Homo sapiens: one gene and its partner. The protein of the gene in region 1 purifies or fractionates together with the protein of each later gene. This does not show direct contact. Each region holds a gene or a part of one and is shown in the gene's direction. Other genes may lie near its edges.

The links.
Region 2: the proteins of PGM2L1 (region 1) and PITPNB fractionate together in Homo sapiens (co-fractionation; one large-scale study listed by BioGRID). This does not show direct contact.

Annotation. Positions count from the first base shown.
Region 1 is NC_000011.10:74,349,689-74,353,726, reverse strand, and holds part of PGM2L1 (glucose 1,6-bisphosphate synthase), read left to right. Parts: intron 1-2,150; coding exon 2,151-2,344; intron 2,345-4,038. UniProt on the Homo sapiens protein: Glucose 1,6-bisphosphate synthase using 1,3-bisphosphoglycerate as a phosphate donor and a series of 1-phosphate sugars, including glucose 1-phosphate, mannose 1-phosphate, ribose 1-phosphate and deoxyribose 1-phosphate, as acceptors.
Region 2 is NC_000022.11:27,856,757-27,860,256, reverse strand, and holds part of PITPNB (phosphatidylinositol transfer protein beta isoform), read left to right. Parts: intron 1-15; coding exon 16-126; intron 127-1,747; coding exon 1,748-1,870; intron 1,871-3,500. UniProt on the Homo sapiens protein: Catalyzes the transfer of phosphatidylinositol and phosphatidylcholine between membranes. Also catalyzes the transfer of sphingomyelin.

The DNA of each region.
Region 1 (4,038 bases):
CGTGGGAGACTCCATTTTGTTCTGTACTAAGAAAAATTCTTCTGCCTTGGGATGCTGTGAATCTATGGCCTTACCCCCAGCCCCTTGCTCTCTGAAACATGTGCTGTGTCCACTCAGGGTTAAATGGATTAAGGGCGGTGCAAGATGTGCTTTGTTAAACAGATGCTTGAAGGCAGCATGCTCCTTAAGAGTCATCACTACTCCCTAATCTCAAGTACCCAGGGACACAAACACTGCGGAAGGCCGCAGGGTCCTCTGCCTAGGAAAACCAGAGACCCTTGTTCACATGTTTATCTGCTGACCTTCCCTCCACTATTGTCCTATGACCCTGCCAAATCCCCCTCTCCGAGAAACACCCAAGAATGATCAATAAATACTTAAAAAAAAAAAATTTACATTTAAATTATCTGAGAGAAAAGATCAGTCGAAATTTTAACATTCAAATTGTAATTAACTAAATTAAGTTGTCCAAACACTACAAAGATATTGTAAATCTGCTTTCTGTTAGGATATTAAAATATTCAATACAACACACACACACACAAAAAAACATTCTGGGTTTTTTGTTTGTTTTAAAAATTCTGCTAGAACCTCAAGGATTTCACTGACTGGGGGCAGTTTCTGTGTTAATTTATTGTTTCTCATCCTAAAATAACTGAAGTGCAGACCTTGGATTTGAAAATTTTTTTAATTACCCAGAACTCAAGAAGAGACATGCTTCCTCATGATCTCTGTAATAGTGGGCAGGACTTTTTCTATTCTGCATTTTCACTGAGAGTGAAATGCTTCAAGGATGCCATTTTTATTTGGGGGTCTCAGTTCCAACTCCCTACCTTGCACATGGGCATTACAATCCAAGAACCAGATAAATGGACAGTTCTCAAACCCCAGGTAACCACAATATCAGTCCCACAGGCTTATCATTCTGCTTTTTAATTATTTTTTTCCCACTGCCTGGAGTCGTCCCTTTCCTCTTGTGAATTATGCTGTGCATTTAAGATAATGTTTTTTCTGTTTTATGTAGCATTTTGAGGTGTTTATAGAGAACAGGTTTTTAGGTCATCTGGTTAACCATATTCTTTGCATAGAGATTAGTACATAGCACAGATTCAAATGTATTCTTCTTTCCTTCATTCAGGATGCAATAGAGGGGATTTGTGTCATATGCATGGTAGAAGTCACCATAGATATTCTCTAACCTTCCAAATTTGAAATCCTATAAATTAATAGAATTACATTTTCATGCTTTTTTGGTAACTGTTCCTAATGTCTTATTGATCAGGCTACTTGACAAACTGAAAGCTCATTGAAATTTATATGGATAATTAACACATTAATTGTTAATAAACTATATTTGGTATGATATAAATTCTACTTTATAATAGAAATATGACTTTTTTCTATATCACATAACTACTTTATAATGTTAAGTTAAATAGTATCAAGTTTTAGGGAATAGTCTGTGGTTTCTTGGATTATCTTTAGTAGATAGTTATAGGTTTAAGAGTATAATTGGATACTATGGCATATGCATATTATAATGTTATCATAATAATTAGCCCTGCTTGTATTTTACTCATATTGTTATTAAGGTATACTTCTAAAAGAAAATCATATATAATCATTTGATTGAAGAGTCCCTGTAGAGTCATTACTATCTATATCTTTTAATATTTATTAAATTAGTCCTCCTATGTTGACATTTTTTATTTGATCAATTTGATATGCTTTATTTTTATTTTTATTTTTATTTATTTTTTTTTTTGAGACAGAGTCTCGCTCTGTAGCTCAGGCTGGAGTGTGGTGGCGCTATCTCAGCTCACTGCAAGCTCCGCCTCCGGGGTTCATGCTATTCTCCTGCCTCAGCCTCCCGAGTAGCTGGGACTACAGGCGCCTGCCACCACACCCGGCTAATTTTTTGTATTTTTAGTAGAGACAGGGTTTCACCACGTTAGCCAGGATGGTCTCGATCTGCTGACCTCGTGATCTGCCCGCCTCAGCCTCCCAAAGTGCTGAGATTACAGGCGTGAGCCACCGTGCCTGGCCTCAATTTGATATGCTTTTTAATAAAGCTGAAGATCTCAACTATAGACAAGAAAAGATCTGGCAAGCATTTTAAGTAATTATGGTTATATTTACTTATCATCTAGGTTTACTGGGAAACTGGTGCTCAGATCACATCTCCTCATGATAAAGAAATTCTAAAATGTATAGAAGAATGTGTGGAACCCTGGAATGGTTCCTGGAATGATAATTTAGTGGATACCAGCCCGCTGAAGAGAGACCCTCTGCAGGACATTTGCAGGAGATACATGGAAGATCTGAAAAAGATCTGTTTTTACAGGTATCCAAGTGAGAATATCAGATAATACTACTTCAGAATAACGTTAAAGAATGAGGAGAATAAAAAGTGATAAAAAGTGTTGTCTATTTATTAGATTAAAATTATAGCTAAATAGTACTCATAAGAGTCAAAGAGTGGAAATAACCCAAGTAACCATTAACTAATGAATGGATAAGTAAAATGTGGTATATCCATACAATGAAATATTATTCAGCAATAAAAATAAATGAACTACTCACATACCACAACATGGATAAACCTTGAAAACATCATGCTAAGTGAAAGAAGCCAGTCACAAAGAACCACATATTGTATGATTCCATTTATATGACATATGTAGAATAGGCAAATCTATAGAGACAGAAATAGATTAGAGGTTTCTTGTGGCTGGAAGGAATGAAAGGGTTGGGGGCTGGAAGCTATAGGTTATAGAGTTAGTTTCTTTCTCTCTCTCTCTCTCTCTTTCTCTCTCTCTCTCTCTCTCTTTCTTTCTTTCCTTTTTTTTGAGACAGAGTCTCGCTCTTGTCACCCAGGCTGAAGTGCAGTGGCACGATCTGGGCTTACTGCAACCTCCGCTTCCTGGGTTCAAGCAATTCTCCTGCCTCAGCCTCCGAAGTAGCTGGGACTACAAGCAACCACTACCATGCCTGGCTAATTTTTGTATTTTTAGTAGAGACAAGGTTTCATGATGTTGGCCAGGCTGGTCTCGAACTCCTGACCTCTGGTGATCCGCCTGCCTCAGCCTCCCAAGGTGCTGGGATTACAGGTGTGAGCCACCATGCCCAGCCTAGAGTTTCTTTCAGGAGTAGTGAGAATGTTCTAAAATTGATCATAGTCATGGTTGAACAACTCTATGAATATAGCGAAAGCCATTGAATTGCACACTTTAAATGGGTGAATTATATGGTATGTGAATTATATCTCAAAAAAGCTGTTAAACAAGTTATACTTAAATATATGTATTTCCTCTATGTTAGATCAGTACATTTCTCTTAAGAGTTTATTTTTCCTTAACCATTTCCATATTTCCATAATTATCTCTGTAACTCTTCTGTAAATAGCTAACACTATTGCTAGGAAGAATCCTGGCTAGCTGAGTGTATTTTTCCTATCCTACAAAATAATTTTAGCTTTTTCTCAACTTTATTTTAATTTCAAAAGTATACCCATCAAGCTGTCAACTGTTTGCTTCTCCGTCTAAAATAAGTGACAGTAATACTAGCTAAATGCTACCAGCTCTAATCAATCTAAAAAGAATTTGATTCCTTTTTTATCCTTTCTGTCTTTTCTTATTTACATTTTTGTTTTTTAAAGAGTATATGGGCAAAAGCAAATTAACAAGTGAACCTAACTATTTATCAAGCTGAAGGCATAATTACACAGAGAAGAATTATTTCAAGTGACTTTACAGTTATTGACTATGTATTTCTAGTGGGATATGTCCTAAGGATAAAGAACTACAAAGAAACCTCAAATTTTATTTGATAGCTGTACTGTTAGTGGTAATATTGATGATTTTACAGATGTAGATATAAATAAATATATAGACATACACATATATATGATAAAACAAATGGGTAATTATGTTAATGTCACTAGGATCTAAGATTTTAGTTTAAGAGAAGTGAATGTAAAATCAAATAAAATAATTTTAAAATTATAATTTTAAATTTGAATTTGAAATATGTTTTATT
Region 2 (3,500 bases), on another chromosome or scaffold:
ATTTTTCTCATCTAGAAGGAGCTGGCAAACAGCCCTGACTGTCCCCAGATGTGTGCCTATAAGCTGGTGACCATCAAATTCAAGTGGTGGGGACTGCAAAGCAAAGTAGAAAACTTCATTCAAAAGGTAAAATCTGCTCAAAATGTGGTGACTTAGATTTAGGATGAGATCGGAGCTAGCTATTAATGGGATATCTTCTCTGTTATTACTTTTTTTCCTCCTTTATGATATGAAAATTATTGTCCCTACATAATTCATTTCAGCCCTTCTTTATACCTCAAAGCAGCAAAGACAGATGGCAGCAGAGGTTTTAAGGGACTTTCTTTGGAGACAAGCACAGCAGCTTTTTGTTCAAAGTGCTTACCTTATGGTTTGCCCAGCGCTTCTGTAGAGAACCCTTTCCCCATACAGCACGTCCCCAAGAGGACCTGGTGTTCTGATCCTGACTGGAGGGAGAGAGCGGGCCCAGCCTGCTGAAGGACTCCCCTGCCCCATCTCAGCTGGACCCTTCCCCCTACCCTCCATATCTCTCAGAATATGTATGTGTGCCTTGTGCTGTCACAGGGGATGTCTTCTTTAGAGGTCTTTACTGAAAAATGGGCACACTGTGAACTAAGGTACACAATCTGAGGATCCAGATTCTACTTGTTTCTTTTTTATGTCTTCTTTATTAAAGTGAAAGTAACATGGGCAGTTAGATCTAGGAGGAGGGGAGAATTGGAATTTTATAAATGCACACGGTTGTTACTACCTAGGAATGTTGAAACATTTCCTTGGTGTTTACTTTTCCTGTAGGGCGAATATTTATTCTGTTATTATTATAAAGAAGCCCTCATTATATCTCAGATCTCCACAATTAGTTATGTCTGTTTCATCATAACTTTTCTATTTTTAAACTATAGCTGCTGTAGTATTTTATAAGACAAGGATCTCAAAGTGCTGGAAACTTTGATTATTCATGGGCCTGCTTACAGTCAGCATTCTGTAAATATTGGCATTCTTCCTTCCTCTCGGATCATAATCATAGATTAACAATCCAGTTCTGATAAATAGAAGTCACATATGTAATTGATAAAGTCCTTTCTATTCATGGAAGAAGATTTTTAAGTTGAATATTGTCCAGAAGTACTTACTGTTCCATGCACTTTTCTCTCTTCTTGGGAAAGCTGAATAAAACTTAAATAATCCATCAATTGAAACCGCTAATTATATACATGGTTTTTAAATATATTTATAATAGTGGCAGCAACATGTTGTGTAGAAAAATTAAGGGAGAGTTTGTAATGATTCTTAATTTAATAAAAGAACCCAGGACTCTTTTCTTTCAATGCATTATTGTATTCCACCTCATAGTGAATGTTAAGAATGACAATATATAGTTTTATAGCAGAAGAAATCTAGTTGACCTTTGCTCATTGACATTTAGAAAAAGGTAAAAATAAATCAGGCCCAGCAGGAATGTGTTGGATTAGGTCATACACACCGCATTTTTTTAGTTTCTACTAGATCATGACACCTTTGCCTAGGAGATTATTTTTCATTTCACAGGGAAAGTTTTTTTTTGTTTGTTTAATTTTGCTGGACACAATGATAATTAAATGGAATTATGATTTCCACAAATCTACAGAGTAGTCTTTTTGAACCAAATGTGTAAATTTCATGGGTTAATTGGAACATGTAAAGTTAATGTGTCATTAATCTTAGGTTTTTGTCATCTTATGCTACTTTTTTGTTGTTGTTTTAAAAGCAAGAAAAACGGATATTTACAAACTTCCATCGCCAGCTTTTTTGTTGGATTGACAAGTGGATCGATCTCACGATGGAAGACATTAGGAGAATGGAAGACGAGACTCAGAAAGAACTAGAAACAGTAAGACTGGCTGTTCTATGGCAATTCTCTAATTTTCCCTTTTCTAAAACTGTATACATGCTTGGTAAATACAGAGTTAGAATTAGGAAGAGTGTTGTTAAAAATCATTCCCTATTCTACTTATTCTCATCAAAATGGAGTTTCTTAGACACTGCTATTCCTTCACATATTCTGATCTCTCTTTTGTTGAGCATCTTGCGTGAAGGTAGACTAGAGTTTTCTCAGTCTAGAATTGGTTACCTGTTAAATATCTAATGGTTCTGTATTCTTTCTTACACACTAGCTTTAGTTCTGTAGGCTGGTTCCTGGTTCACAGTCGTTTTAGACACTTTGTCAGACTAAGTTGCTTTTGGCTCAGTTTGTATCACAGCAAGCTTAACAAATGTTAACATGATAAGTCCTAGTTCGCTTTTTTTGTAGAAAAGGTAAGGCTAATGGTATTGTTACTAATTCTGGAAATGCCTCCTCTGCTTCCCCCAACTGGCAGTGATCCTTATTTCTTCCTAAGCTTTGGGCAGATTCAGGTGATCCTTGGGCAGGAGGTCAGCATGCCACAGTTCAGTGTTACAGCCCATCCCAGCTGCTCCCCACCACCAGTGGGCAGGGCCGGCAGCCAGTGGGTGTCTTCTCTCTCCTCGGGATGGATTCTTCCCTGGCTTCCTCTTGCATGTGTCTGGTTTTGTTTTTGCCCTGGGCCATGCTTGTCTTCAGTTGGCAGTAAGGCCCCATGGGTGAAACAAACCCAAGGAATGTCCAGGGCCTGCTAGTGGTTTCCATGTGGTCATCTCGAGTCCTGCCAGCAGGTCCAGTTTTGGAAGCCCTGCAGGTGTGAGCGTTTGACAGACGCCTGCGTGTGAGGCAGAAACTCCATTTAATCACAGGAGAATGGCAGCAAATCAGATTCTTTGGCACAAAAGGAAACCTATTTTTCTGGCACATAGCATCGTAAAGAATCTGTTTAAAATTGCTTACTTTTGGTGATTACAGCAGATCTGCTTCTAATTAGTTTTATATAAACCTTCTGAGAGGACTAGGACATATTTTCTTTATAAGGCAATAAAATATTTTAACCTTATCTTATACATAAAGTAAACTATAGGCAGACTCCAACTTATGAATGGATTTTGTTCCAAAAAATTTTAAGTTGATTGTTTGAAATTTGGAACATATTTTCCCATAGAGACAATGTTATAAATTAGGGTTTGGTTTCTAGACTAGCCAGCATAATATGCCTCTTTGACCCCAATTTCTCATACTAATATTAGGACTCTGAGTTCTGGATATAGGGAATAGGGTGATGAGATGGCAAGAGTGGAAGATACCCCCCTCATTCCTTATTTTTAGTCTAGCCACAGGCAAAACACTTAAATAGGCAAGAGCAGATCATGGGCACTTCCTACCTTTCTTTCTAGGCCTCTCTCCCACTTCTGTGTTCCCTTTTTCAAGAGTCAGGTGCCTTTCTCTGACTCTAACAAGCACCCCCCTGGCCCTCGCTACCCTATCCAGTTTTAGTCCCATTTGCCTTGTCTGGTTTCACTCCCTCCAAGTGCCCAAGGCTTCAGGAATACCTGCCAGCTCTGCCTTTGGCTCTTCCAAGCAGCTGGTGGGTGTCCACTGAACATGAAACAGA